2 separate regions of the Homo sapiens genome follow, and region 2 is linked to region 1. The links come from fine-mapping of genetic effects on plasma protein levels. A gene starts in region 1. The other region holds a variant in brackets. All regions are shown on one strand. Distances are between the middles of the regions.

Region 1 (15,814 bases):
CTAAAAGGCTACCACAGGGTTACTGTTTTTGGTAAGGGGAAGTCGATGCCAGGAGGAACTTCTCTATTGATTACAGCAATGACCACCATTTATTAAGCACTTCTTAGCTCTCCTGGTGCAGTGCTAGGAGTTTGGCAAACATCCTATTTGTCCTCAGAAATAATCTTGCAGAGCAAACACCACCATCCCCAAAACCAGATGTGTAAAATGAGGCTCAGGTGAAGAATAACTTGCCCAAGATCACTGAATTAAATGTGGCAGAATCAAGTCTAATGAATGGCAAGGGTGAGAACTGGTCAGTTTCACAGAGAATTAGGCCTTCATCATACAAATGCCGCCTGCACAAAAACTAAATGAGAAACAGTGAACCCTTGCTGTAGGGAGAAAAAGCAATATTCCGAACTAAAAAAGTAGTTTCAAACAGAAGATCTAATGATAAACACATTTGTAAAGTCTGAGCAGGGAGGAAAAGGATTACTCAAATTACTCAAGTACAGCCCTATGGGGCTCCTTCACTTCTGTGTTCTTAAAATCTAATCTGGTTTAAGAGCGCATGGGCTCCGAGTAAAACTCTCCCAAATTCCTCCAGGCTTAACCACCCTCTACTCAAAAGAACCAGGAGCAGGAGTTAGGACAATGGGAAGTGACCGCCCTGCCCTGCCCTGCCGGTCCTCCCTCCGGGTCAGCTGTCAGATCCGCATGGGTGCGACTATAAGCCGGCACCGGAGCCCCGGGACTGGCTCGGCCAGGGTCCCCGCCTTTTCACTCCCAGTCCCGGCCCTGTCGGCCACCTCGTTTACCACCTCCAGAGGCACAAATAATTATACCGGAAGAATTTGTTTTAACAAGTAGAATTCTATATTCACCAACTGGCTTCGCTATCGGATATTACGGTAGGGTTCCAACAAGAGAAGGGCAAAAGAATATAGTTTAATTGTTCTAAACAATCTTTCTGAGAAGTTGGGGTGGCTGAGGCGGCCACGGGGATACAGCTCAGGCACCTGTGAGCTAAGCCCACTCTACAAACTAACCACCCCTACGTTTTGGGCAGAAGAGCGCCGCCTCGCCAACCCAGGTTATAAATGTACATATTTTTAAAGATGAGCTTTGACGCTGTGACACTTGTGGGGAGTCTCCCGACGGCTCCTCTACTTGATGGGGGTACAGGGAGTTCTGCGGCTCCCCAGCCCCGAGTTTCAAATACCGTGGCCTGGAAATTAACCGGGTGACTCGGTTTATTGCCTCCAGAAGGGTCCGCCTGCCGTGCTGGAGTAGCCGCCAGTCCCGCGCCCGCAGCCCCGGCAGGGCCCCCCACGCCCACCTTCCCACGAGGGGTGTCTCGTAGAGTCCGGCTTCAGGCGCTCCCTGGCCTGGCAGCACCCACCCCACCCCGCCCCACCCCACCCCCACGACTCGGGCTAGCAGCCTGGTTAATCATTCAACGCAAACAGTGTGGAATATTTTTTTTAAAAGGTCAAAGCGAAAGGTTTTCCCTAAGTTTGGCAGAAACCAGTTTTGGGGGAGCCGGAGACAGAAGTGGCAGAGGTTGGGGGTGGGGGGTGGGGAGCGGCTGCCGGCGGCTCTTTGGCTCACAAAACACCTGATCTCCCCATGCGGCACGGGAGGCCGGCGCAGTGCGAGGGTGGGGTGCGGGGGTGCGAGCGAGGAATCACGCGCGCCCCCCTCCCCGAAATGCCCGCGCGCCCCGGATGAGGAGGCCCGGCCCCAGATGCCCCTTGCCAAAGCCCGCATCGCCCCGGCGCCGGATCCCCCGGAAGTTGGGGTGCAGCGAGGAGGGGGAAGGTCCCCGGGCTCCAGGGCGAGGTGGGCACGGAATGGGTTGGGAGGTTCCAAAGCCCCGCAGCGGGCGGTGTCCCTCTCCTCTCCCTCTGGGCTGAGGTTGGGTGGCTGGGACGGCGGGAAGGTAAGGGAGGCTTAAATGCGGCAGGAGCCACCTAGGGACGGCTTCCTCCACCGGGGCGCGGGTACGAAGCCGGAACCGGCGAGGAACCGGGCGGGGGTAGCAGGGTGTCCGGAAGGTGGGGCCGGGAAGCAGGGAGGCGGAAGGGGACTGGTAGAGGGGCCTGGCGGTGAGAGGGCAGCGGGGAGGGAGCCGGCGGGGGTGCTCGGCGCCCGGGCCCTACCTTGTCCGGGAGCAGCTCCAGCTCGGCGGGGCGGGGGCAAGGGCGGGAGATCGCGGCCACATCCACGTCCCGGCCGCTCCGCGCGGCTCAGCCCGGCGACCGCCGCAGCTCACGCTCCATGCGCGGCGCCCCGGACGGGCGGCCCGGCGGTGTCGGCGGCAGGGACTGCTCCGGCTTGGCTCTGCTAGCCTCCGGCACTTGTTGCCGCTGCTGCCGCTGCCGCTGCGCCTCACTCCAGGCTCCGGTTCCAGGCGCAGCAGCCGCCGCGGGCGCCCGGCCCCGCCCCTCCCCTGCCCGCCCGCCAATGGGGCCCGGCCCCGCCCCTCACGTCACCGCCCGACGGCCCCGCCCCGCGCCCCAAGTTTTGGGAGGGTTCCGCTCTCCCCACCCGGTACCAGGACCCACCCGGGCCCGCGCTCCCTGCGGCTTCCAGGGACCCTCCAGCCCCCACGCACCCTCCTGCAAAGCCGAGGGTTAAGCTGGGGAAAGGGGGCCTCTAGGAAGGCGACCCCCCTGGAAATGCCTGGCAGCTCCAAAAACACTAATGAAACTCAGCTCCAGCCTCCGCCCCTCCAGTTGTGGGTGGCCCCTCTTGCGGTTCGTCTGAGGCTAGGGGACTAGGCGCATCGCCTAGCGAGACTCCAGTGGCCTTTTCTGTCCAGTTTGTAACCGGAACTAGACCGACCCCGGCCGCCCCCTCCAGTGCTGGGGCGGGTGAGGAATGGCCCCGCCGGGGAGGCGGGGGAGGGAGGCCTGGGCCACCCTGGGGTCTGACCTTTGCTCCACCTCTTAGGTGCTCACGACCCAGAGTGGTGCCCTGCTTGGTACTGCCACTGGATCCTCTGGCTTATGAAGCCGTCCAGGACAGGAAGGGTGGGGGGTGGTCCTTAGTTCTCTTCGTGGGGTCATGCAGAGTGGTTTCCTCGAGGTCCCACGCCCGTCTCAGGAAGCCAGAAACGCAAGATGCCGGGCGCTCGGCCCGAACCCGTGCCGCGGCCCAAGGGGCAAGGCGGATACCGAGGCAAGGCCTAAAGGGCCGGACTCTGACCGCACCCTCCGGACACTGCAGGGCTCCGCCGGCCAGAGGCGGCCTTGGCGCCAACCACACCTAGCAGCGGGGTCCCCGGGCCCACCGATGCGCCCTCCTAGCCCCGCGCTCCTTCGAGGGGTTCCAAGGTGACTCAGAGACGCAGCTGACACAATTCTGAGGCCCCCAGGTAAGCCTGGCGATACCGGATGGAGAAGTTACCTGGTCTTGAAAGGCCCAGTCCAGCCAGCGAGACCCGCGTGCGCTCCGCGGGGAGGCAAGCCTAACCAGGGGCTCACCTGGAAGCGTCCCCGCCCCCTGGTCCTTATCTCTGAATCGAAACCGAACCTGGACCCATCTAGATAATTGGACTGAGCAATTAAGGACGCTTCGCTCCTAACTGTTAGCATTTTTTCCTAAGGCTCTCGGAGGCGGAATCAGCTGGAAAGGAACATTGCTAAGTAGGAATTTCAGGCACCTGTGAACTGAGCCCACTCAATAATCGGCCCTTTCCCTTAACCAAACTCAGCAAAGGAAGAAAGACCAAGTTGCTGCGGATGCACAGAGCCACGTGGGTGCGGGTCCTCTAGAAACAGGAATTCAGAGTCAGTAGATATGGAAATGTTATGGTTTGCAGTCTTCGGACCATGCTGCTTTCATGCTGTTCACATGATTCTCCTCGGACTGCGAGGTAAAGTCCAAGAAACAAGTCGAATGTTTGTATTTTCATAGAAAAAACATCTGTAAGGGTGCACACCGACTGTTAACCACGGTTACGCGGGGAGGGGAAACAAGGGAGTTACATTTTTTTACTCCCTTGACTTTGGATTTTGTATTTTTCCAGTTGTATTTACTTTCATAATTTAGAAAGCTAATAAAACATGTTTAAAGAAACAGAAGCTAGAAATTCTCTAAGAACTCTAGGAAGTAGAGGCCGGGCGCGGTGGCTCACGCCTGTAATCCCAGCACTTTGGGAGGCCGAGGCGGGTGGATCACAAGGTCAGGAGTTCGAGACCTGTCTGGCCAACATGGTGAAACCCTGTTTCTACTAAAAATACAAAAATTAATGGTGACATGTACCTGTAATCCCAGCCACTTGGGAGGCTGAGGCAGGACAATCGCCGAACTCAGGGAGGCGGAGGTTGCAGTAAGCCGAAATCGTGCCACTGTACTCCAGCCTGGGTGACAGAGTGAGACTCTGTCTCAAAAAAAAAAAAAGAACTCTAGGGAGTATAAATTAATAAATGAAGTCTATGTCTTCATTCTGTATCAAAATAATATTGAGTCCATGTTCCTGGGTTTAAATAAAGATATCTCTAGGCTGCTGTCTGATATTTAAATGCAGTGTTGAGACAAAGCGGACATCTAAGGAAGATTTTCTGTGCCATCAGATTGGTATATTGTTTCCATGCATATGTGTCTTCCCTTTAAATGCACTCCCTGTAGCCACAGACATGCTTGCAAGAACGGCCAGCCAAGGAGTTTATAGTAAAGGAGCTGCTACAATGTCAGCTGGCAACCAACTAGGAAATTAAGCTTGTGTCCCTCGCTGCCCAAGGCTGCCCAGGCCATGAAATTTAAAAATAAGGGTATTCTTAGGCCAGGCACGGTGGCTCATGCCTGTAATCCCAGTACCTTGGGAGGCCAAGGTGGGCGGATCACTTGAGGTCAGGAGTTCAAGACCACCCTGGCCAACATGGTAAAACCCCGTCTCTACAAAAAATACAAAAAAATTAGCCAGGTGTGGTGGTGGACACCTGTAGTCCCAGCTACTTGGCAGGCTGAGGCAGGAGAATTGCTTGAACTCGGGAGGTGGAGGTTGCACTGAGCCGAGATCGTGCCACTGCACTCCAGCCTGGGCGACAGAGCAAGACTCCGTCTCAAATAAATAAGGGCATTTTCTCCATGGTGGCTTTAACACAGTTGGGAGTATATCTACAATAGTTACCTTGTGTCTTTTGGGGAGTAACTCAATGCTAGATTCCACATCGCTTGGCTATAGTCCCTACTGTTAGGTTGGGACCCAGGTCCATCATCAGTAGGCAGAGATGTGTTATTCACTTATTCAACAAAAATGTACTGGCCATCCTCTAGATGCAGCACAGGACTAGGCGCTGGAGTGGTGAACATGGCAAACACACTCCCTGCTTGGAGCTCACAGTCTAGCTGGAGAGAGGGGCTTAACAATTAAATGCACTATTAATTAATTACAATTGTGATATGGGCCACAGGGAGTGCAAGGTGGTGAGATCATCTGGGGAGTCCATGAGGAGTTCCTGGCTGGTTCAGACTATAAAGGAAGAAGTGGTTGAGGAGGAAGTTAGAGAGGCAGGCAGGGGTTAGATCACGCAGGGCCAGTACACCACATTACAGAGTTTGGACTTTATCCTGAGACATTTGAAACAAGAGTCATACACTCAATTTTGCATTTTGAAGTAGATCACTCTGACTGCAGTGTGAAGAAGGAATAGGGAAAGGGGAAGAATGGAATGGAGGGACAGTTAGGAGGCTGTTGCTATAATGTGAGAGGGGCCATTTGTTTAAGCAGTAGAGCAAATGTAGAGAGGTAGACACCAACGAGACTTGGTAATTGCTTAGGGGGGATGAATCAAGGAAAACTCCCAGATCTCTGCTTCTTTAACCAGATGGATGGTGGTGCCATTTTCTGAGTTGGAGAACCCTCTCAAGGTTCAAATTTGGTCAAAGTAGGTTTGAGGTGCCTGTGAGATGTCCGGGTGGAGATGTTGAACAGGTGGTTGGCTGCAGGGTCTGGGGCTCTGAGGAGAGGCTGGGGCTGGAATAGCTGGTGTGGCAGTGGTAATGAAGTCACCAGAGGCTTGTGGGCTCCTATGAGAGTGTACAATTAGATCAGAAGAGGACCTACCACTGAGCCTTGAGGAACTCTTATCTAAGGGCCAGACAGAGGCAAACCTCTGGCAGAGGAGGTGGAAGAGCAGCCAGAGAGGCAGGAGGAAAACCAGGAGCTTGGCCAGGTGCAGTGGCTCACGCCTGTAATCCCAGCACTTTGGGAGGCCGAGGCAGGTGGATCACCTGAGGTCAGGAGTTTGAGACCAGCCTGGACAACATGGTGAAACCCCATATTTACTAAAAATTAGCTGGGCGTGGTGGCAGGCGCCTGTAATCCCAGCTACTTGGGAGGTTGAGACAAGAGAATCGCTTGAACCCAGGAGGTGGAGGTTAAAGTGAGCCGAGTTCACACCATGCACTCCAGCCTGGGCGACAGAGTGAGACTCTGTCTCAAAAAAAAAAAAAAAAAGAAAAAACTAGGAGTTTGGGGAGGTGGGGGTCACAGAGTCCAGGGACAAAAGCACTCTAAGCAGGAGGCAGTAGTCAACAGCACTCAAAATGGGTGACAAAAGATGTGTCTAGTGGCACACACCTGTAGTGTCAGCTACTCAGGAGACTGAGGTGGGAGGATAGCTTGAGCCCAATTTGAGGCCAGCCTGGGCAACATAGCGAGACCCCCATGTCTTTTTTTAAAAATGGCTGGCCAGGAGCAGTGGTTCACACCTGTAATCCCAGCACTTTGGGAAGCTGAGGTGGGTAGATCACGAGGTCAGGAGATCAAGACCATCCTGGCTAACACGGTGAAACCCCATCTCTACTAAAAATACAAAAAATTAGCCGGTGTGGCGGTGGGTGCCTGTAGTCCCAGCTACTCGGGAGGCTGAGGCAGAAGAATGGCATGAACCCGGGAGGCGGGGCTTGCAGTGAACTGAGATCAGGCCACTGCACTCCAGCCTGGGCAACAGAACAAGACTCCATCTCAAAAAAAAAAAAAAAAAAAAAAAAAAAAAAGGCTAAGTGACCCAAGTGAAGTGAAAGTTGAATAACATCCACTGGAGTTAGTGACCTTGATGTCGTTGGGACTTTTACAGAGCAGCGGCTGGTGGAATGAAGGGGATGGGCAATAGACTGGAGTGGATGGAGGCATGAGCAACAGGTGAAGAAATGAAAGGCACAAGGTGCAGACAATTCTTGAAAGGTTTAACTGTGAAAAGTCAGAGAAATAGCTGGAGGGGAATGTTATGTCAGCAGTGGGTTTATTTTGGTTTATGTATTTTAATTATTTTTAGGATGGAATTACTTCAGTATATTTAAATGCAAATAAGGAGGATCCCACAGAGAAGAGGAAGATGAAGGTACAGTAGAGAAAGGACAATGGAGCACAAAGGCTCCTGTGCCCATGGGAGGGATGGACCAGAGTGTGGGTGGAAAGGCTGATCTGAGGCAGGGGCCACCTTCTGTATTATAACAGGAGGAAGGAGGCTGGAGGAGGACTGAGCCAGGCTGCCATCACAGAGATAGTTGAATCTTTCCACCTGATGATTTCCTCTTAACTCTGTGACATAAAGGAGGCTAGCAATAGGGCAAGGAGAGATGACAGATTTGAAGAGAGTGGAGAAGGTATGACAGTCACTGCAGGAGTTTGGGAGGGTCGTGATGACCAGAGAAACAGCCAGATAGCAAGGCAGCATGGCAGTCCACTTGAGGCTGGTGCCTGTGAACTTTTAAGGTGCGCTTTGGCCCTCCTGTGTGGTTTCTTCCAACAGCTCAGCTGCCCACTGTGGTGCCAGCTCAAATGAGGAAATTACCAGGGCAGAGGAGCAAAGGAATTGAGAGCTTTGGCAAAGGTGAGGTGGCACGGTGAATGATCAGAGAGAAAGGACAGGAGCCAAAGGACTGGAAAAGTCAAGGAGTCAAGACCAAGTCACACCAGAAGGAGAGGAATTGGGTCAGAGATCTGGATCTGAAGTAAGGAGTTCAGGAGGTGGAGAAGTTTAGGGCCATGACAATGCCAGGACATGATGGGGAGGCATAGAGGAGAAAGTCATTGGAGAATATGAGGTCAAGAGATTAAGAGGGCACTGGATAGGTCCTCTGTGTGAACAGGAAAGCCATCCAGGATGTGAGGAGGAATGGCAGTTATGGTGTGAAGGCCATGGAGCCAGGAGCTAAAGTTTTAAGAGAGTGGGCAAGAGGGAATGACCAGGAGAGCAGAAGATAAAAAGCACCAGGCAAGGGACAGGCACTATGGCTGGGCAACAGTCTCCCCAAAGGAACAACAGCATTTATGGGACGTGGAGGAGAAGTGATCAGGTAGGGGAACAATTAGTCAGGGTTGGGAAAGTCTGGGAGGCTTCCTGGAGAAGGTGGAGTGGAAGGCATCCAGACTGCTCATTTATCCTGAGAACATTTGTGAATGTGCCCATTTCTTTGTGGCTGTGAAGACTGTTGATCTGACAGTCTGAAGAGGGTCTATAAAAAGTTTCTAGGTCATAGATTTCTCCCTTGGCACTCCTGCTTCCCAGCGTGTTGTCACTCCTGTAGCCCTGCCACCTCTCAGTCACACTCATGTGCTCCTCCGAGGTGGACAGGCAGCCCAGACTACACAGTGAATCCTGTGTGCTTTGCCCTGGGCCTCTCATGTCTGGCTTTTCCATGTCACTCCTTCTTCTTTTCTTTTTTTCTTTCTTTCATTCTTTCTTTTTCTCTTTCTCTCTCTCTCTCTTTCTTCTTCTTTTTTTTTTTTTCCCCAGGCTGGAGTACAGTGGTACAATCTCAACTCACTACAACCTCTGCCTCCCAGGGTTAAGTGATCCTCCCACCTCAGCCTCCCAAGTAGCTGGGATTACAAGCATGCACCACCACGCCCAGCTAATTTTTGTATTTTTAGTAGAGATGGCATTTCACCTTGATGGCCACACTGGTCTCGAAATCCTGATCTCAAGTGATCCACCTGCCTTGGCCTCCCAAAGTGCTGGGATTACAGGCACGAGCCACAGCATCCGGCCTTGTCACCCATTTTTCTGGTGAGGAAACGGGCTGATCTTCAGCAAGTTTCCTGTGTCCCCTTTGGTGCCAGCATCCACCTGGTATTTTTGCCCAGCCAGACTGCAAGCTTTTGAGCAAGCAGACCTGAATGCCCCTCCTTCTCAGCCTTCAAGGTCTGCGGTTTGCCTCACTTCACCTGGCCAGCCTAGGACACCTTCATGCCCACAGAGCCACAGCCCTGGTCTACACCCACCTCCTTTGTTCTTTACTGCCTCTGCCTCACTAACCAGGAGCACCCCAACAACCTGCCATTCAGGTACAGACCCCATGGAGATGCCACCCTGGAACTCAAACATCTATAAGCCCAGAGCTGGCTTCCACCTTCTTGGTTCTGTTGGAACCAACTCCTGCAGCCCTTTGGACATGGTTCAGAATGAAAGCCTTCTTCCTCGGTGGCAAACCCCATGGCCAGATGGGTGCCTGAGCCCTGTATCTCCCTCCTCCTTTCAGCACAGATCTAGAAAAGTTCCCAGCCTGTCTAAGGGCCAGGCACACACAGATAGCATCAGCAGCAGAAATCCCCAAACTTTGTATATCCTCCAACTTAGGTTGTCACAGAAGGATGGCAATGTTTCCTAGTCTGTTAATCAGTCCCAAGTGGAATTATGAAAACAACAACCACCTCTCTCAATGGCTAAAATATTAATTATTGATGGAAAGTGTGGAAGCTTGGCACTGGAATTCTTAGAATTCTACTCCAATCCCTTGGAACTGGCAAATGAGGCCCCAAAAGTAGCTTTCTGGAAGCCAAATACCTAATACCAGAGATAATATCTTGAACGTTGGACAATTAAATCACAGGTTAAAAATCACCTGGCTCTTAAAGCAGGTCCTTTGCTCCGAAGGTTACTATGACTTTGGACTTTGTAACAGTTGAAAAACAGCCTCATTATCAGATGCAGATATAGAAACAAATGTAATGATTCCCAGGGGACTTGCTCCATATTCCAGAGTCCTGATGCTGAAAGAACTTAAAATTCCCAGGTTAGTAAAGTCCAGCGTGTATAGGACATTGTGGTGGTACCTATGGTCAACAATTTGGAGGGGCATGAACAGCTGTCTCTATTACGGTCATCATATTGTTTTGGGAATAGAATTCTCAGTAAGGAGAAATGCAAAATCATAGTCTTAATTATCATCAAACTGAAAAATTATATTCAAGACGAGAGGCCCATAATGGCAGCATCAAGCATGAGACAGTGCCATTAATATGATTATCAGGACATAAGCCTATTAGAGAACTTAATGCCTTTTTGCTGGCATCGCCCTTTGTTATGCTTCTCAGGGTTTAGAAACCATCTCAGTTGTAAACATAACTGTTACAAAACAGTGATTTCCAGGGGGCATAACAAAGATCTGCCCACCTTTACCAAAGATCAAAGCTGCCTGGCTATGGAGAAAGAGAATATTTTTAGAAAATGAAGACCAATCTCCCAACTCTAGGTGGCTCTTATTGAGAAAGGAAGAAAGGGAGTGTATCTCGCTCCAAGTCTTGCTTTGTGGCAATCCAGTTGTGGACATGATTGTGAGGTTTAACCACCACATGGAGATATGCATGCAACAACTCAGATGGATACAGTGGCCTAGGTCTTGGCTGCTGCTAGTGAAAAACCATGGTATGGAAATCCCCAATTCCAGGTTCAACTCCCACCTTGGGAAGAAGCCAAGTGTGGTCCACATGGGAACAGTAACATCTAAAGAGTTCTCAGGAAGAGGAAATTAGGTCATTTATGGCCAAGTACCTGCAAACATTTGGGGCTTAATAAATGTTTGTTTCCCTCCTCAGTCTTGGCCATGGAACCAAGTCCCCATCAGGATAAAGTATGAGTGGTATCTTGGCATAGAATGCTTCGCATTCTCAACATTTGTCCTGGGCCCTCCACTGGAGGAACTGCCATTCTGTCCTCATTCCAAAGGGTTCTGACGCCATCATCATCAATATAATCATGTAGAATGGAAAAATCAATTGGCTGTCCCTGGAAGGAGCCACCTGCTTGATCTTTAGGATCCAGTGACTTACGAAACTCACTTGGCAAAATCGTCTTACAGCAAAACCATTGCCAGGAAGGGCAGGGCCTCCTCCTCAAACACGACAGTCGGCAGTCAGGGAAATCAGAGAGCAACAGATCCCATAAATAGTCTGAAAGGGAAGCAGGATCCATGCGACAGCACAGATGAATCTTCCAACATTACGCTGAGAGAAAGAAGTCATACGCAAGTACAAGTGAAGTTTAAGAACAGGCAAGAACTTATCTATGGTGGCAGAAATCAGAACTCGAGTTGCTTCTGGGATAAAGAGAGAATTAACTGGAAAAAAAAGCATGAGGGAATTTTCTGGGATAAGAGAAAGATTCTACCACTTAATTGGAATGTTGGTTACATGGGAGCATACCATTGTCACAACTCTTTACACGGTAAACTTCATATTTGTGCTTTTCTTTTCTGGAAAAAAATAATTTTTTTATTAGTTAACTGCTTGAAATATGTGCATTTTATTGTTTGTAAATTGTACATCCACTTTAAAAAAAAAAAAAAGGAAGCAGCAGTCTTTAGGCAGAGAAGAGTATGGGCAAGTGGGAAAAAAGAAAGGGCTTCTCCACCCATCAATCCCACTGCTGTGTTAGGCAATTTTCCCTGTGCCAAACTGTATGGCAGTTATGAACTGACATTTCAAAATCAACTACAGAGAGGCGGGAGGCATTTTCTAAGAATATCCTAGTCTGTGCTAACCATTTAGGTCCAAGCCACATTCCCTTACATTTTGAAAGCTTTTCATCACCATTTCCTTCTTTTCTCATCTAAGGTCATCCCAGGAAAGGGTTTTTCAGAGTCAGCAGCCCTCCATCCCCAGCACTGCATACACATTGCATAACATTGGCCGTATAAATTTTACACCCATAAGGCCATGGAAAAAGGAAGCAGTTTAGTTGATCAATCAGACATGTTTATGGCCATCAAAAATCAGGAAAAAAAGAGAGTTTGGATCACTAGAAAACTTCCAAGAAGAAAAGAATCCTGACAACCAAGGATTTCAAAACACAAAGGCCCCCAAAGGGTGGGAAAATGAAATGGGCAGTTGGAACTAGAACTAAAATTGCAAATTTGATGCAACTTCATCATTAAGTACTTGTGTGACAAATCCCTTCTGTGCTGTCAAAGGGGATGTATCACACATGACAAGAAAATCACAGGCAGAGTAGGCTCCAACCCAGCACGTCGTGGCTCTGCTTCAGTCTGACTTCTCTGCTGTTCTCTTGGCTCCATCTTCTTCTCACATCTATTGCTTTCTACAGCTATTTCAGGCATCTCAGTCAGAGCCAACATCCGACAGAAAAGGGACTCTTTCTTCCCTTGTCTCTTGTTATGACCCAGAAAACCTTTCCTACAGTTCTCTACCCAAGTTCCCTTCTCGTCTCATTGGCTAGAACACAGTCACATGACCCTTCCTAAGCCAATCACTGGCGAGAGTGTATAGCGCCATCCTGAATCGTTTAGACCAATTTGAGTTTTCAAAGGATGGCAGGATAGGGTGGAGGGGGAGGGCAGCATGAATTGCATGAAGAAGGCATGGTCCCCCAGACACAGGGCTCTACCTGCCCGATAAAGGGGGTGCTGTAGGTAAGGTTTCCAAGCTCGGAAACAGAGGTTGGCAAGCAGGAAGTTTATTGAAGGGTAGGTACAGCATCAACGCCTGAGGGGAAGTGAGGTGGGTAGGAATGGACAAAGAGAGAAGTTGAACTGCAGTGCAATCATGGTAAAGACCTCAGCTGATCTTTCAGGGAGCTCTGGTGGTGGGATGGCCCAGAGTTATTACAAATTGGGGTGAAAGGACGAACCCTTTTTACTCCTGCGTCCGCCAGTCATTAGATGTGGGCTGCCCGTGGTCAATGTGAGCTTCATCTTAGGCAAGGTGACTCTCTCTGCAGCAGAGGACAAGTGTCAGAGAGGAACTCAGCGGACAGTTGCCGCCGTCAGCACTCCCAGTAGATGGGGGCATGAGTGCTTCAGTCTTGGAGGGGGGATCTGGGTGACACATGTCATCTGCTATAGGGAAGATGAGTTTGCATTGTCAGTCCCTCAGGTCTCCTAGAATCCAACCTGGAGTCTACACTCATGTCCAGAGAAAACACGGCAGCCTTGACCAGGGCCATTTCTGGAACCCTCCACTTCCTTGGGGAGAGGGAAGAGGAGAGCATCCAAGAGTCAGCACAGCACTACCTTGGTCGTTACTAGTAGGACAGCTGAGAGATAGCTGTGTGGACTGAGTCTGGGTGGGACCCAGCGGGACCCAGCCCTCAGACTTAAGGGGCATGAGGCCCACAAGAATGAAAATCCACAGGATTAGTCTTGAACAAGCCGGGAGCCTGCTAAGCCCTGGCATCTGCTGAACTTCCCAAATCACACACATTCAACTGTTCGGTTCCACATTTCCATAGTGTGCTTCCTGCCAAGCTTCCCAACACAGTGTACACAATAGGAAAATTGAAATGAGCAGTTCTAGCAACTATGGATATGCAGGTCAAATAAATAAGTCTTTATCTAAGACTTAAGCAGACATGGTCAACAAGGGTCTAATTCAAAACTGAGCTTTGGAGAAAGAAAGATTTTACAAAACAAAAAGAGGGGGAGGGAATAGAGCTGTTTGCATGAATTTTTTTCTGTCTCACTAAAAATACTGAAATATCATTTTATCCAGCCTCTCCATGCTGCCCTGCCTCCTCCACCCCATCCCTGGCTGTATTCCTACTCTGGCTGTAGGGCCAACTCATAGGAAGTGTTATGCTAGGGTATGTAAATAGTTGTCATGGAAAGGAGCTGGGGAAATTACTTTGTGCATTGTTATATATCTAGTTAAATGCCTCAAAATTAAAGCCATACACATGGGTGTTTTTGTGTCTATTAAGGAAGCACAGGGAATATGTGTTATAGAAACCTCAAGCATTTCAGCTAAGTGAGTAAGAGCAAGGAACTTGAATCTTATACTTCGGGCTGCACCTACTGTAGTGTGGAGCCAGATGTGGTAGAAATTTTTTTTTTTAACAAGAAAAACTATTTACAAGTTTCTCGTCACTCCTCATTCTAGCAGTAGATACACCGACTCCCCTTGGAAAAAAACCACTGGAGGGTCCTTTGGTTATGTAGATATAAGGCCAGGGGCTGTTGGTTGTCTTGGGGAAATGGAAATGAACAGTTTTGATTTCTTTTTTTCCCTCCCTGCGCTGACAAAGGCCACCCCTCCTCCCACAGGCCCACAATCTTGTCTGCAATTCTGAAATCCATAAAGGGCTGGAAAATGAGTTTTTTCAGAAGGTGGCACTAAAACTAACATGGCAGCAAAATCTGACTGGACCTTATGGGAGGGCATAGTTTTTATTTATCCTATGTTTCACTACAAATATGTTAAGGTGTTTGATCATGGAGCTGCTCCGAACACATTCATATATCTGCAGTGAAACATGGGGTGTTAGATAGACTATGATATGTATATACCATTACTTCCCAAAATCTGGAAAATTCTAACTCCTGAATAAGGATTGTGGGCCTGCACTAGAATCTGATGGATGGAGTTAATCCCAGTTGAGGTCAGTATGCAGGACAGAATACTGGGTCATCTGGACTGGTGACCAAGGTTTAGCTGAAGGGCTCATGTTGGCAGGGAAGCAGTGCGTGCTGCCACTTCTGGGCACAGTGAGGGGTGATGAGGATGTGAGGGAGCCCCTTCACATCCAGCTCCTTCACATCCATGTTGGAAAAGCAACAAAATCATGAACCCAGGTCACATCTTTCGGTGGACAGAAGCACCCATTATTGTTGGCTTTGTACCCAGGCATTGAACTGCTGGGTTACAAGGGATGCATATGTTTACTTTTACTAATTCCAGGCAAACATGTTTCCAACAGTGTTGTGCCAGTTTACACTTCCGTCAGTATGAAGATTCCAGCTGCTCCAACACCTCACCAAAACTTGGTATCATCAGGTTTTTTAAAAGGTTAGCTGTTTCAGTGGAGATGTACTGGTACCCCGTTGCAGTTTTAACTTGCATTTAACTTGATCATGACAGTAAATGCCCTTTCCTATGCATACTGGTTGTTTGGATGCCCTCTTTTGTAAAGTGCCTGTTTAAGTCTTTTGTCCATTTTAAATTGGGTTGTCTTTTTCTTATTCATTTGTAGGCATTCTTTATATATTCTGGCTGAGATAATGTTTGGAAGTTTGGAGGTTTGAACTAGCATACATATGTATATATGTGCGCACATATATACACACATATATATGTGCGCACATATATACATATGTATACTAGTCCATACATGTATATATGTATATTAATCCAAACCGCCAAGCTTGGTCCAAGCTGGTCTCAAACTCCTGGCCTGATCCTCTCACCTTGGCCTCCCAAAGTGCTGGGATTATAGGTATGAGCCACCATGCCTGGCTTATCTCAAGATATTTATAAGGCAATTTGATTGGATTTGGGGGCAGGGACAGGAAGATTGTGGAAATGAGGAGTCCTAGGTTGCTGGATTGAACAGCTGGATAGACAATAGCAGTGCCATCTACTGAGTTTGAGAACACTGGGAAGGGAAAAGGAGCAGGGTGGTGGGAAAGGTGATACACTCGGTGGTGACCATGGGGAGTATGAGGTGTCTATGTGATGTCGAAGTGGAGCTGCCCATGAGGCAACTGGATATACAGGTCTGGAACCCAAAGAAAGACCAGTGTCTTCATCCATATTCTGTTGCTATAACAAAATACCTGAAGCTGAATAATTTATTAAGGAAAGAAG
Region 2 (15,814 bases), 150 kb before region 1:
CTGGGCACAGTGGCTCATGCCTGTAATCCCACCATTTTGGGAAGTCCGGGTGGGTGGATCACCTCAGGTCAGGAGTTTGAGACCAGCCTGGCCAACATGCTGAAACCCCATCCCTACTAAAAATACGAAAATCAGCTGGGCATGCTGGTGGGCGCCTGTAGTCCCAGCTACTCGGGAGACTGAGGCAAGAGAATCAGTTGAACCCAGGAGGCAGAGGTTGCAGTGAGCCAAGATGGCACCACTACACTCCAGCCTGGGTGAAAGAGCGAGATTCCATCTCAAAAAAAAAAAAAAAAATGCAAGTTTGTTTCCTCTTTTTTGAGACCTTTCTCATTAATGAATGTTCTTCCTATTGCACTACCCAAAGTCAAATGGTCTTCACTAATGGGTATATTTTGTCCCAGATGTTATTTAGAGGGTGCTCTTTGCAAGGATTGGTTAGATTTTGAAAACTAGATAATTAATGGAATTGTCAGTGGTCTCACCTTGGGATCATGGGTCTGAACAAATCGGTGTTGAGTATTGAGTTTTGATAGTGTATGAAGCACGTCATAGCTTCTGGCATGACTGGTCTGGCACAGTCAATCTGTTCTGTGAGTCAGGATATGCTTGGCAAGTTGTGGTTTCTGTTCCAATTCTCAACTGTCAGCATTTAGACTAGTACCTGGTTCATGGTAGGTGCTCAATACGTATTTACTTAAAGAATAATGAATTGGCCAGGTGCGGTGGCTCATGTTTGTAATCCCAGCACTTTGGGAGACTGAGACGGGCAGATCACTTGAGGCCAGGAGTTCGAGACCAGCCTGGCCAACATGGTGAAACCCCATCTCTACTAGAAATACAAAAAATTAGCCGGGCATGGTGGCGGGGGCCTGTAATCCCACCTACTCGAGAGGCTGAGGCAGGAGAATTGCTTGAACCCAGAAGGCGGAGGTTGCAGTGAGCCAAGTTTGCGCCATTGCACTCCAGCCTGGGCAACAAGAGCAAAACTCTGTCTCAAATAAAAAAAAAAAAAATCAATATATAGTTGGCAGCAGACCAAAAATAGTTCACCTTCTTTGTTAGTTACAGTTTGGCAAAATCTATATGAAAATACAGGCACACATACCTTTGACCTAGCAATTCCACTTCTGGGAATTAATTCCACAGAAATTTGCATATTGCAAAGAACCACCTGATAAGGTTACTCACTGCAATATTGTTTGCAATCACAAAAGAACAGATGTCTTAGAAATCTCCATTAGTAACAGCCTGCTTAATTCAGCCGTGGTGCACACATACAATGGAATAAGATGCAGGTGTAAAAAGAATGAGCAAGTTCTCATGATACAGAAGATCTCCAAGATATATTCACTCAGTTTCAACCATAACTGCTTTGTTCCTCAGAGCAAGTTCCTTCCGCTCCACGTGGAGGGTTTGAAGGCTTTGAAGGTTCAAATCCAGATATCTGGATTCAAAGCAGAAGAAACCTGGCTCACTCTCTCACTTTCTTCAGGCCTTGGCAAATCTTTCACTGACCACTATAGGAGAATAAAAATAATTTTTTCTTCAACCCTCATAGGTTTTTGATTGGAAAAGACCCTTGTAGCAAAAGATGAGATAAAAACAAACTGAAGTTTAACATGTATATTTAATGTATACATGGAACACACCCAGAGAATGAGTAGTTCTCAAAAAGGTGGCTTTGAATTCTAGCTTATGTGGCATTGTCAACAAAGAACAATGAATATTTAGAGAAGTGACAAGGCAAAGGAAAAGGATTTTGAGTCTCTAGGGGCAGCAACTTGTGAGAAAGCCAATAAATGGCAGAAACAGCCTGGCTAGTAAGGCCTGTTCATGTGGCTTCCTCTGGTGACATCTCCAGGCTGATAAGGGTCCAAAGTTAGACCTTCAGTGCTAATCTTTGTTTTCCCTGGAAGAAGGGTAGCAGGGTAGGATATCTTTTGCCTTTGTAAATCTATGTCCTGCTTTTAGGCAAATAGAAGGAGGGCAGAGAGCTTTCCTGTATCTGCTTCTTCTTAATTGTCTTTAGCTCAAAAATCCTTCATATTTTGGGGTGGCATATTCTGGTCTTCCACACCACCCTATCATAAAATATCCACATCCCATTCACCACCACCCTCGCCACACACACATGCATACATGCACACACATCTATCCCCTTACCCTGTTTTGCTCCATAGCACTTACCACTTATCACTATATATCACTTGTTTATTTATATCCCACAAAAATGTAAGTGTGGCCAGCTCAGTGGCTCACTTGTAATGCTAGCACTTTGGGAGGGCAAGAAGGGAGGATTGCTTGAGCCCAGGAGTTTGAGACCAGCCTGGGCAACATGGTGAGACCCCGTCTCTACAGAAAATTTAAAAACTGGCTGGGGGTAGTGGTGGGTGCCTGTAGTCCCACCTACTTGGAAGGCTGAGGCAGAAGGATCACTTGAGCCCAGGAGGCCGAGGCTGAAGCAAGCAGTGTTCACATCACTGCACTCCAGCCTGGGTGACAGAGCAAGACCTTGTCTTGGAAAAAAAAAAAATTTTTTTAAATGTAAGCTCCAGGAGGGCAAGAAATGTATTTGTTTTGTTCACTACCAAATTCCAAATGCCTAAAAGAGTGCTTGACACATAGTAGGTGCTCGGTAAGTGTTTCCTGAACAAATGAAAACAGTAAATGAAAAAAGCCAGAGGCATTTGAGCCCAGCCTCAAAATACTGGGCTGACTATCCTTATAAATGCTTCTATGTGAATGAAATGTCTTTAAAAGGTTACAGAAGAAATAGGTCATGCTGGTTGCCTGTCAGAAGGTGAACTTGGTGGCTGGGAGACAGAATAGAAGGGAGGCTTTTCATTATACAGTATTCTATTTGTAGATTATTATGCAAAAAATATAACTTAAAAGTAAAAAGGAAAGCTTCTGTATCATTCCTTTTTCATATCTCCATAGTATGCTGTCCTGTGGATGTACTAGAAGTCATTTCATCAATCCTATTTTAATGGGCAAGTTAGTTATTTCCAAACTTTTGCTATTGCAAATAAAGTAGTCTGGATATTTACTTTTCACGTTATAATAAATAGGACACTGAGGTCTTTTTATAACCCCTTAACTTTGGTTATAAATCTTTGCAGTTGAAAATGTAACCAACATCCCCAAGTAAACAAAAGTTTACTGCAGTTAAGTCCATTTGCATTTGCTGGCTGGGAGTGGGGCAGCCTCAGGAAGCAGAGGCTCCTGGGAAAGGGATAATTTAATTAGCATTCTTGCAATCTCATTGGTAAACTCACCCAATCCCTAAGCCTGTATCCTGATAATTTATCAGGATAGGGCTGTCTTACAAAGGAGGGCAAAAAAACAAAAGAACAAACTTCTAACCAAGATGTGGCTCACGCCTGTAATCCCAGCACTTTGGGAGACCAAGGCAGGTGGATCACTTGAGCCCAGGAGTTCAAGACCAGCCTGAGCAACATAGCGAAACCCCATCTCTACTAAAATACAAAAAATGAGCCAGGCATGGTGGCACACACCTGTAGTCCCAGATACCCAGGAGGCTGAGAAGGGAAAATCACCTAAGCCCAGAAAGTTGAGGCTGCAGTGAGCTGTGATTGCACCACTGCAATCTAGCCTGGGCAAGGGGAGTGAGACCCTGTCTCAAAGACAAACAAACAAACAAAAAGTGAAGACAGTTCAGTATTCCTAATTCATACAATGGGAAACATCTGAACTAAAGATTGAGAATCCTGGGTCTGCTACCGAGAAGCAGGGTGACCTTGAGGAAATCACTTCTCTCCTCTGGGCCTCCATCACCAGGTCTGTGGAATGCAGCCTTTGTCTCCCTCCCTCTCACTGGAGACTCAAACACTATGTTGGGTGACTTGAGGCAGCTGCTGAATGGTAGCAGATCTGCCAGGGCTGTCACTTTGTGGTGGTTCTGTAGGTAAATACGGCACTGTGTTGGAAGAGAAAAACAAACAGAGAAGCAGCTGCCTTCTTTTCCAGAAATGACACCAATAGCCTGCAACTACTCAGGTTGATGGGCATGCAGCAGCCCGATGACTCCAGAGATGCGGGGGCAGGGAGCAGAGCATCTGAAACAGGGACATCAGGACCCAGTGACTGCTCTGGTATGACTCAGGGAGGCTGTCAGGGTTGAGCTCTCTGCCAGGGATCCAGAGTGTCCCAGGAGGCCGTCTCTTCTGAAGAATCTGACAAGGCCCAGGCTTCTGGGAATGACTCTGCCCTGTTCTCCTGCCTAACCTGAAAACAGACTCTGGGGAGAAGGAAGCTGATTGACACAGTTTCATTGCCCCCAACACTTGCAAGTGCAAACAGAGGCCACATACCTTCTTATTCTTTGGATCTGTAATCAGATCCTCATTTGGTAAAAAAAAAAATATGAAGTTGCGGCCAGGCCTAACACTTTTGGAGGCTGAGGTGGGTGGATCACCTGAGGTCAGGAGTTCGAGACCAGCCTGACCAACATGGAGAAACCCTCGTCTCTACTAAAAATACAAAAATTAGGTGGCATGGTGGCGGGCGCCTGTAATCCCAGCTACTTGGGAGGCTGAGGCAGGAGAATTGCTTGAACCCAGGAGGGGAGGTTGCAGTGAGCCGAGATCGCACCACTGCACTCCAGCGAGACTCTGTCTCAAAAAAAAAAAAAAAAAGAAGTTGCAGGAATTGCATTCAACCTCTTCAAGTTATGAATTTAATGAGAATAATTTTCTTGCTTATTTTTACAGTTTCATCAGCATTAAAATCTCATTAAAAAAGAATCTGTGGCTGGGCATTGTGACTCGCACCTGTAATCCCAACACTTTAGGAGGCTGTGATGACAGCTCACTGCACTCCAGCCTGGGCAGCAGCAGAATCACTTGAGGCCAGGAGCTGAAGACCAGACTGGGCAACATAGCTGGACCTCATCTCTACAAAAGATAAAAAATTAGCCATGTGAGGTGTATGCATTTGTAGTCTTAGCTTGGGAGGCTGAGGCAGGAGATATGCTTGAGCCCAGGAGTTCCAGGCTGCAGTGAGCTATGATAATGCCACGGTACTCTAGCCTGGGCAATAGAGCAAGACCCTGGCTCAAAAATGGAAGGAAGGAAGGGAGGGAGGGAGGCAGGGAGGGAGGGAGGGAGGGAAGGAGGGAAGGGAAAAGAAAAAGAGTTTGTGAAGTTCTCTTGCTTACAAATTTTATGAGAGACCTCAACAGAAAACTGTTCATTTTCAGTGTTGCCAGTTTTAAAAAATTTAAGCTGATGCGCTTCTGAATACTTTTCCTTTTTTGGCTTTTTTTTTTTTTTGAGCTCCACTGTCATATTTTCTAAATTGATCCCAACTCAACTTGTATTCATTCCTAGTGATCTAAGAGTTTACAAAATAAAGTTGTTTTTCTTCTAAAACATTCAACTTTTTTTTTTTTTTTTGAGACAGTGTCTTGCTCTGTTGCCCAGGCTGGAGTGCAGTGGTATGATCACAGTTCACTGCACTCCATCCTGGGCAACAGTAGCCTCGACCTCCCAAACTTAAGCAATCTTCCCACCTAAGCCTTCCAAGTAGCTGGGACTACAGGTGCTCACTACCATGCCCAGCTAATTTTTTGAGCTCTCTCTGTGGCTCTTTCCCCAGCTCCACCAGGGGTCTCACTATGTTGCCCAGGCTGGTCTCAAACTCCTGGGCTCAAGTGATCCTCTCACCTTAGCCTCCCAAGGTGCTGGGATTACAGGCATGAGCCACCACGCCTGTCCAAATTATTAATATTACAAAGCAAAATACAAAAATTTAGTAAATTTAAAAAATAAAGTTATTTAAGTAAGGCTAAATTTTTTTATACTTGATAATTAAATCTTATTCAATATTATTATAAAAATAAAACTTCAGCCAGGCACAGTGGCTCACGCCTGTAATCCCAAAACTTTGGGAGGCCAAGGCTGGTAGATCATGAGGTCAAGAGATTGAGACCATCCTGGCCAACATGGTGAAACCCCATCTGTACTAAAAATACAAAAATTAGCTGGGTGTGGTGGTGCGTACCTGTAGTTCTAGCTACTCGGGAGGCTGAGGCAGGAGAATCACTTGAACCAGGGAAGCAGAGGTTGTTGCAGTGAGCCAAGATCGTGCCACTGCACTCCAGCCTGGCAACAGAGCGAGACTCCATCTCAAAATTAATAAATAAAACTTCACAATTCTGGGTTTTAATGTCTGCTTAATAAGCAAAGCAAAGAATCTGTATCATGCTTCAAATATCTTACAACTACATGTATATAAATGTAAGACAAATATGAATTCTTTTTTTTTTCCTTTTTTTAAGACAGGATCTAACTCTGTCACTCAGGCTGGAGTACAGTGGTGCGATCATGGCTCTCCACCTCCCAGGCTCAAGCGATTCTCCCACCTCAGGTTCCCAAGTAGCTGGGACCACAGGTGCACACCATCACACCTGGCTAATTTTTTGTATTTTTGGTAGAGACAGGGTTTCACCATGTTGCCCAGGCTGGTCTTGAACTCCTGAGCTCAAGCGATTCACCCACCTTGGCCTCCCAAAGTGCTAGAATTACACATGTGAGCCACTGTGCCTCGCCAAAAAATATCAATTCTTCAGCCTGGCAAAATGTTCCTCAGGCACTGTGGTATATTGTTACATAATGGTCCCCAACACGTCTTACCTCCCTGCATCCAGCCCCTTTGCAATATAATTTCTGCCATGTTTCTCATGGAGACATAGAGTCTATATCCTTCCAACCCCTGGATCTGGGCATCCCTTAAGGCTTCATTTGCTCCATAGACTGAGACAGAAGTAACATGTTGCAACTCCCACAGCTAGGCCTTAATTACATTACACATTTCTGCCATTATGTGAAAATGCCCAGTTCTTTCCTAAAGGAGGAAAGGCTATTTGAAGGAGAACTAGGGCACCCCAGCCAATAGCCAGCGTAAATATCAAGCACATAAACAAAGCCATCTGGGAACATCCAGTGCCAGCTGAGCTGCTGGCTGACTGCAGCTGTATAAGTGACCCCAAAGGAGATCAGCAGAAAAATTGCCCAGCTGAGCCCAACCTAGAATTATGAGCAAATAAATTTTTGTCGTTTTAAGCCACCCAGTTTCGGTGTGGTTTGTTACGCAGGAATAGATAACTGACACAGCCACCACGTGCGACTCCTGTAAACACTAAGCTAATTTGTGAATGCCTCCAGAATCACGGATTAGGACAAATTAAGAAAAAAATAGGCCCTTGGCACTATTGAGAAATAATATTTGGTTATGCCAGGACCTCTTGAATTCATGCTCTCTGAGAGAAGGGACACACATATGAGGCAATTACATTCCTTCTCCCTCCAAAGCAGTGTCTGTCTCCAGTGTCAGCAGGGGCACAACCTGTAGACCTTCGCAGTGTTTGGGCTCAGCAGCCTTTTGTTTTGAGAACATAGGAGGGAAATGTGGAGACTAAGGGTGTTCATCTCACTCATCGGTGCTCACGATTACGGGTCACACTGTGCCAGTGATATGTCCAGCATCCCAGGTGACAAAAGCTCCCATGTGGTCTTCAATAAATTTAATTTTTGTGTTTGTGACATGCAAGGCCCTCCAAAGGGTAGAGGGCCTCTTGCCTGGTCTAAGGGCAATATTGCACTGGCCCCAGATTCCAGGAAATGATGGAGGCCTTGCTTGGGGATTTGTCTATGAACAGTGACTAAGGAAAAGCACTAATGGCTATTCAAACTTGATGTCTATCTCTCTCATTTTTTTTTTCTTTTTTTGAGATGCAGTCTCACTCTGTCATGACCAAGCTGGAGTCCAGTGGCGTGATCTTGGCTCACCACAACCTCTGCCTCCCAGGTTTAAGAGATTCTCCTACCTCACCCTCCTGAGTAGCTGGGATTACAGGCACACGCCACCATGCCCGGCTAATTTTTGTATTTTTAGTAGAGATGGGGTTTCACCATGTTAGTCAGGCTGGTCTCGAACTCCTGACTTCATGATCTGCCCACCTCGGCCTCCCAAAGTGCTGGGATTACAGGTGTGAGACACCACACCCAGCCGATGCCTATCTCTTGACACACCAATCCAGCTTTAGAGAAGATATCCTATAGAAACAAAAGGACTAATAGAGAAGGGTACGTAAAAATGTCTGTCACAAGCATCGCTTAATGTAGCAAAAAGTGAAAAACAACATATACATCATTAACGGGAGATGGTTTCGTGAATTGTGATCTATTCATATTAGCACATGTTATAAAACCATTGAAAAGGTTGTTATATTTATGTTTAGTGACTTGGAGAGATTTCTTTATTGAATATTTACTGAGCATCATCTATGAACCTAGTACTGTTTAAATGCTAGGGATATAGCAGGGAATAAGACAAGGTTTTTTGCTCATGCATTTCACATCTTAGTGGAGGAAGACAGGCCATAAACAAATAAATAAGTATATAGTATCAGCTGGTGAGAAATGCTATGAAGAATAATGGTGGTGGGTTGGGGGATGGAGCCCGGGAGGAAGTGAGGGAAGGAACATTGTGGCCATCAGGAGGACGGGCATTCCAGACTGAGTGCCAAGGCCCTGATTTGGGAATGTGCTTAGTGTGATCTAGTAGCATCAAGGAGGCCAGGG[T/C]AGCAGGAGATGGGGATGGGAGGGAAGGTCAGAGAGCAGAGCAGGGATGTTGGGGGGCGGGGGATGTATATGCATGTTGTAGACCACGTAGGGCCTGGCAGCTCCTGGTGAAGACTTTGGTTTTGGTTTTTTTGGTTTTTTACTGATGGGGTCTCACTGTGTTGCTCAGGCTGCATTTGAACTCCTGGACTCAAGCAATCCTCCTGCCTCAGCCTCCCGAGTAACAGACAATGAATGCACTCCCCCCACCTGGCTAAGATAGGTTTTTACTCTGAGTAGAATGGAAACCAGTTAAGATTTCTAAGCTGAGGAGCAACGTGATCTGACAGATTTCAAAGGGTTCCTCTGGCTGCTGTGAGGGGAATGGACTGAAGGGACAAGGGTGGAAGCAGAGAGGGGTGTAGAGGCTGCTGTAGCTAAGTGAGAGAGACAGGATTGGGCTTGCACCAAGTGGAAGCCACGAGGTGGGGGGATGCAGTCTGATTCCAGATGGATTTTGAAGGTGGAGCCTGCAGGACGTCCTGATGGAACTGGATGTGGGGTGTCAGCAAGAAGCCAGACGGCCATTTAATAGTGTTAATGACTAAGGCTAGTTTCAGAGGAAAGAGAGTATAGCCCAATCCCATTTTTGCTCAAATAAACATCAAATAAGACACACTCCCTGTGCACGGATCTTTGTGTATACTAATCCGAGTCTATTAGTTGGCTAGGGCTGCCATCACAAAATACCACAGACTGGGTGGCTTCAGCAACAGAGATTTATTTTCTCAGTTCTGGAGGCCGGAAGTCCAAGATCAAAATGCTGTCAGGGCTGCTTTCTGGTGAGGCCTTTCTTCCTGTCCTGTAGACAGCTGCCTTCTCCTATGTCCTCATATGGCCCCTTCTTTGTGCTTGCTTAGGAGAGAAGTGGGAGCTCTCTCGTGTCTCTTTCCCTTCTTATAAGGACAGCGGTCCTTTTGGCTTTAGGCTGCACCCTTGTGACCTCACTAAATCTTAATTAGCTCCTTGTAGGCCCTGCCTCCAAATACAGTCGAATTAGGGGTTTAGGGCTTCGCCGTATGAATCTGGAGGGACACAATTCAGTCCATAACAATGAATACAGAGAAAGCTGCAGAAGGACATCCACAAGCCATTGCACTCCAGCCTGGGTGACAGAGCAAGACTCTGTTTCAAGAAAAAAAAAAAAAAGAAACCAACTTTCTAGCAAAAGGATCCAGAACATACCATGGTGAAGAGAGTTTCTTTCCTAAACTCCCCTTTCTGCCTAAAAGCAGAGCCTCCCAAAAGAATGCAACCATCATAGATCCCCTTCCCAGAGGTTTCCCAACCATGGAAGAGTGACTCCCTTCACCAGAGGGGAAGCCACAAGGCTATAAAAACTCTCCTAAATAGACATGGTCACAAAACTATCATATCTCCCTCATATCTATTTGCCTTAGGGCCCATTTATCTTTTCTAGAAGTCGCTGGTTTTCCAGTCTCCTTTCTCTCCATCCCCTTCTCCTATTAAGGGTGTATATTGTGTCATAAAATGTCAGAGCTACCGCCAAAAGACAAAGGTCTTTCATCTGAGAGCCTGTGAAAAAGATATATAAGCCCCCAATCCTAATCACCTCTTTGAGCCACATTTTTCTGTGAATTCCCATGTATGTATGTGAGTAAAATTCTGTTTTTGTTTTGCCAATCTGTCTTTTGTCAGTTTAATTCACAGGCCTCCAACACTGAACCTAAGAGAGTGGGGAGAAAGTGTTTCCTTTCTCACAGCTGTCACCTCCTCAGAGGGGTTTTTCCCTGGCTATTCTATCTCAACTAGGCCTCTTTCTCCTTTTTGTTTCCCACAGCATTTACCATACCTTATTCTGACTTTATTTGTCTGTTTACTAGGTTTTGGTCTGCCTTTCAGTAGAATGTAAGCTGCATGGAGGCGTATAATACAAATTCATTAACTACTCAGTGAATGACTGGATGAGGAAATCCGTCATCCTTGGCTCAGGTATTTATTGGTGAGTCTACAAGTGGCAGCTCAGTTCAGCACTCACTCACTGAGAACTTATTAGGTGTCACGATGGTGCTCGGCGTTAGGAACACACAGAGGCCCACTCCCTGTCCTCGAGGAGCTTACAGGAAAACAAGCAGCTATGCTGGGCCCTGGGAGAGGCAGGTATGAGCAGGAGAACCTTACTCTTCCCTCAAGAAGTTTACTGGTATAGGAGGCAGGGAAGAGAAAAAGGAAAACACGTGATAAGGAGCTTGGAAACAAACATGACTCCAAGTACAGTTATTTAGTACACAAATAAAACAGAGATGGTTAAACTATTCTCTAGGCCTTTGTTTAGGGAATAATTCACATCATTCTAATTACAGGGTTGTGAGAATAACAACAGTGTTGGATGGAGCTCATGGTACTTCTGCTTCATTTAGACAAATCTGCCTAAGGAGAGCCCATCCCCTACATACACAGACCCGCTGACAGGCATCGCTGGTTTCTCTTGGAAGCTTTCCAAGTGGCAAGCCTGGCGCCTAGGCTAGTCTTGGAGCCTCTAAAAAGCCTTTCAGGGCTGCCTCCCTACCTCAGTCAGGGCCCCATTAGCTATAAAGGCCAGAGATATACTGAAATTACCCCACCCCTCAAAGAGCACGTAAATAAAAGGGAGAATTTATTGAAATTATTTCAATGCACAGGAACCCAAGAGAAACTGAATAACTAGGCCAGGCCTAGTGTTCTCCGAAAGTGTTCTCATTTCTTCAGATTCCTGAGTTTAAATTTCCATATTCCCCTATTCTCCCCCCAGGTCAGGTGTCCGTGCTGCGGTACAATCATCCCACCCCTGTAAAAACAAGGCCCCCTAGGCCAGAGGAGATAACTCCAAAAGACAACCAGATGGGTGGAGTGATCAACCTTTGTGGTTCATCTGGGACTGAGGGATTTCATAGGGAGCATGGCTTTTAGAGCTAAAACCAGGAACGTTCCAGACAAACCTGGAAAAGTTAGTAATAAGTTCAGCCAACGTCACATCCGTTTCATGCCCATACATCATTAATTTTTTTTTTTTTTTTGAGATGGAGTCTCGCTGTGTTGCCAGGCTGGAGTGCAGTGGTGGAATCTTGGCTCACTGCAGCCTCTGCCTCCCGGATTCAAGTGATTCTCCTGCCTCAGCCTCCCGAGTAGCTGGGACTACAGGCACGCGCCACCATGCCCAGCTAATTTTTGTATTTTTAGTAGAGATGGGGTTTCACCGTGTTGGCCAGGATAGTCTCAATCTCTTGACCTCATGATCCACCCACCTCAGCCTCCCAAAGTGCTGGGATTACAGGCGTGAGCCACCGCACCTGGCCCCCTTCATCATTAATTTTAAGCAACACATTTCTTCATATTTAACATCACTGAAACCAGGATGTGTTTTAAAATGAGTGGCGTCCTGCAATGCGAAGCTGAGTTCTCCTGGAAATGATGCACAGCTGCCAGTCACTTCTAGGTCACCACCAACCTGAGACCACATTAAATTAATTTTCAGCTTGACTTTTTCAGACCACACTGACAGCATGAATTCAGACCTCAAATCTGCATGAGCACAGGCTCGTGGTTCAAATTGTCAGGAGAGAATTGTTGTTCCTCCCTCCACAGTGTCAGGATTGAGACGTGCGCATTTCCAGCCTGCCACTCCTGTGGGAAGACTTATTTTCTTACAGCATCCCAGCTTTTAAGTGGTGTCTCCATATTTGGCTTTTTTTTTTCTTGCATAATGGTACATAAAATAACAGTGCAGCTTACAGTGGATGGTGTCTCCAGTTGGATGAAATACGGGTAATCCTCAACCCCCACCAGCCGCTAGTGCTGGAAGGAGGCTCAGTTCTGTGGAACCCTGGCTTCTCTGGGTGGGAAGAGAATGCTGTCCCGGGTACCTAGGGCTGGATCCTGAGGATATAGAAAGAGTTCTCTCTTGGCCCTGATGAGCTTTTCTCTGAGCTCACTGGCTTGCAGAGCCTGGCAGCCCATTTGGAAAAGTTCTTCACCAGTCTCTCTAGACATATCAGTGTTTAGATAGCCTTCCTTCCCTACAAACACAAAGCTCATTTGTTTGAAATGTTGCAAAACTCCTCCTAACCACTGCCACATGTAGAAAACCCATGGAAGCAGAATTGTAGGAGAATAAGAAGGAGAGGCAGTGTTTCAACTTGAAAACTGGTAGACATGCTTTTTTTTTTTTTTTTTTTTTTTTTTTTTTTTTTTTTTGAGACGGAGTCTTGCTCTGTCGCCCAGGCTGGAGTGCAGTGGCGTGATCTCAGCTCACAGCAACCCTCTGCCTTTCGAGTTCAAGAGATTCTCCTGCTTCAGCCTCCTAAGTAGCTAGGATTACAGGTGCACACCAATACCCCTGGCTAACTTTTTTGTATTTTTAGTGGAGATGGGGTTTCACCATGTTGGCCAGGCTGGTCTCAAACTCCTGGCCTCAGGTGATCCACCTGCCTCGGCCTCCCAAAGTGCTTGAGCCACCATGCCCCACCTGGTAGACATGCTTTCTAACCCCCAGGTTTTCTTTCCCTCCCCCAGGGTGTTCAGCATTTCCTGAATATGTGATACCCCATCCCTATCCTCAGCTCATTCAGTTGACCTTTCCCCAGTCCCCCACCCAAAGCCACTCACCCTCAGGCTGGCTCACCTGTCCTCAGACCCCATCGTTTGTCTTTCTGTGTTGGGGCTCAGGACACACCACCCAAAAATATTACTGTAGGAGACCCAAATATGCCACCCCAAAATACACTTCATTGGTATATTTTGAGCTGGTTATTCTGAGAAACTGCAGACAGGGGTAGCTCTGAAAAGCTTTCTTTTTATAAAAAAAAAAAAACACATCTATAAAGGAAGTTTACCTTAGTAAAAGTATCTGTATTAGGAAGAAGGCTGCTTAGACAAGCTTTATTACCTGAGAGACTTTTCATCTGTGTAAGGTAACCCCCCAGAAGCCCCAAGCCCCTGTTCCTTTCTGTAGCTCAGGATGCTATATAACCTCCAATCATTTGGCCCTTCTGTGACTCTCCTGTTTCTGTGGGTCTCCCATGTGTATGCATGGAATTAAACATGTTTTTCCCCCTGTTAATCTGTCTAATGTCAATGTAATTAGTAGCCTAGCCAATGAACCAGAAGGATAGAGGAAAGCCATTTTTCCTCTCCAATACCTGGTATCATTTCCCAGCTTCCTGAGTGCCAAGGTCTGAATGTTTGTGTTCCCCCAAAATTCCTCCTCTCTGGTTAAAATCCTAACCCCCAAGGTAATGGTGTTAGGAGGTGGGTTGGGGGGGCCTTTGGGGGTGATTAGGTTGTGAGGGCTGTGCCCTCATGAGTGGGATTAGAGCCTTTGTAGAAAAAGCCCAGGGAGCTGCCTTGCTCCTGTAAACCAAAAATAAAATTCTAAGCCCCGCACCATCTGCACAGACCCCTCCTCTTGGCAAGGGCATTCCAAAGCTAACCTGAAAAACTAGTTCAGGCCATGATGGAAAGGAGGGGTCAGACTGCCTCCCTATACCCTCCTCCTTTTTGGAATTACTGATAGAACAGACTCTTTAAGTCTGATAAGAAACATTTACAATCTATTCTCTCTGAAGCCCACTACCTAGAGGCTTTACCTGCATGAGAAAACCTTGCCTCTACAACCCCTTATCTTATCCCAGGCATTCCTAAGTCTTTAGACAATAACTTAACTCTTTCAACCAATTGCCAATCAGAAAAATTTTTGAATCTACCTATGACCTGGAAGTCCCCCACTCCTTCCTGTTGTCCTACCTTTCTGGACCAAACCAATGTACATTTATGTGTATTAGATTGATGTCTCATTGATATGGTTAGGTTCTGTGTCCCCACCTAAATCTCATCTAGAAGAGTAATCCCCATAATCCCCACATGTCAAGGGAGAAACCAGGTGGAGGTAATTGAATCAAGGGATAGTTCCCTCCATGCTGTTCTTGTGATAGTGAGTGAGTTCTCATGAGATCTGATGGTTTTATAAGGGACTCTTCCCCCTCCGCTCAACACTTCTCCTTCCTGCTGCCTTGTGAAGAAGGTGCCTTGCTTCACCTTCTGCCATGATTATAAGTTTCCTGAGGCCTCCCCAGCCATGCTGAACTGTGAGTCAATTAAACCTCTTTTCTTTATAAATTACCTGGTCTCAAGCCATTCTTTATAGCAGTATGAAAAAGGACTAATACACTAATGTTTTCCTAAAATGTATAAAACCAAACTGTGCCCTGACCACCTTGGGCGCATGTTCTCAGGCCCTCCTGAGGGCTGTGTCATGGGCCATGGGTCACTCATATTTAGCTCGGAATAAATCTCTTCAAATATTTTACAGAGTTGGACTCTTTTCATCGACACTCCTTCTACCAAGTGAGGACACATTGAGACGGCGCCATCTATGAACCAGGAAGCAGACCTTCAACAGACACTGAATCTGCCAGAACTTTCATCTTGGGATTTCCCAGCCTCTACAACTATGAGAAATACATTTCTGTTGTTTATAAGCTGCCCAGTGTATGGTATTTTGTTACAGCAGCGTGAATCAACTACTTCCAGCCCAGGGCAGGGACTGTGTCCCCCTGCTGTGTTCAAAGGCAGGGCTCAAACCCAAGGCCAGCCACAGTGAAGCCCCAGGTGGGTGTAGAGGCCTCTTGCCCTGGGGGGAAAGTGGTACACCTTATACTCTGCAACGACCTTCCCAGCTCTGCCAGACCACCCGGGCTAAGGAAAGGGAAGGCAGGACAGGTATGCAAACTCCAGGCTCACAAAGAATTCTGAGGTTTTGTGAGCGCTAAGAATCCAGTTTACGCAAAAAGAGTTTACTTTGTCTAGTTTAACCTAAACCATAAGAGTTGAAGGTATTGATAAAGTGGGACTAGGCGTCTGGTTTTGGTGAAAGAGCCCTGGATTTAGATTCAGAGATTAATATCCAAACTCTGCATTTCTGGGTGCATGACTTTGGCAAGCTGCTCCAACATTTTAGACCTCATTTCCCCCCATTTATAAAAGGAAAGTTATTATTCCCATTTTGGGATTGTGCAAGGATTAAATGGGATAATGTACGCTTTAAAACATGCTTTGTAGACACTAAAGCATTACACAAATATTTAGCCCTGGGAGGGGAGATAAAAGGGTATTCTGCTTAGTGCAATGCTTTTAAATGTGCAGGTTATGAGCTATCAGCAGGTCATGAA

Evidence for each region. A credible set is the group of variants that fine-mapping cannot tell apart. PIP is the posterior inclusion probability: the model's chance that the variant is causal. Protein levels are from the aptamer-based SomaScan assay of Sun 2018.
Region 2: its variant is the best candidate, but not a certain one, in a credible set for the plasma level of the B3GNT2 protein (Sun 2018, PIP 0.63).

What each region holds. Positions count from the first base shown.
Region 1 is chr2:62,182,686-62,198,499 of GRCh38, reverse strand. It overlaps B3GNT2 (UDP-GlcNAc:betaGal beta-1,3-N-acetylglucosaminyltransferase 2), which reads right to left and starts at 2,385. Exons shown (of 2, transcript NM_006577.6): 1 at 2,145-2,385. LOC124906013 (a long non-coding RNA gene) reads left to right here and starts at 2,487. Exons shown (of 2, transcript XR_007086336.1): 1 at 2,487-3,361; 2 at 3,593-4,511. RefSeq lists enhancers at 990-1,099, 2,080-2,686, 3,293-3,900 and silencers at 1,510-1,859, 2,040-2,479, 2,770-2,999.
Region 2 is chr2:62,329,435-62,345,248 of GRCh38, reverse strand. No RefSeq gene overlaps it. Among named protein-coding and RNA genes, the nearest start is that of MIR5192, 130 kb to the right of the region's middle. RefSeq lists an enhancer at 11,016-11,245. The variant T/C (reference allele first, on the strand shown) is at 8,610.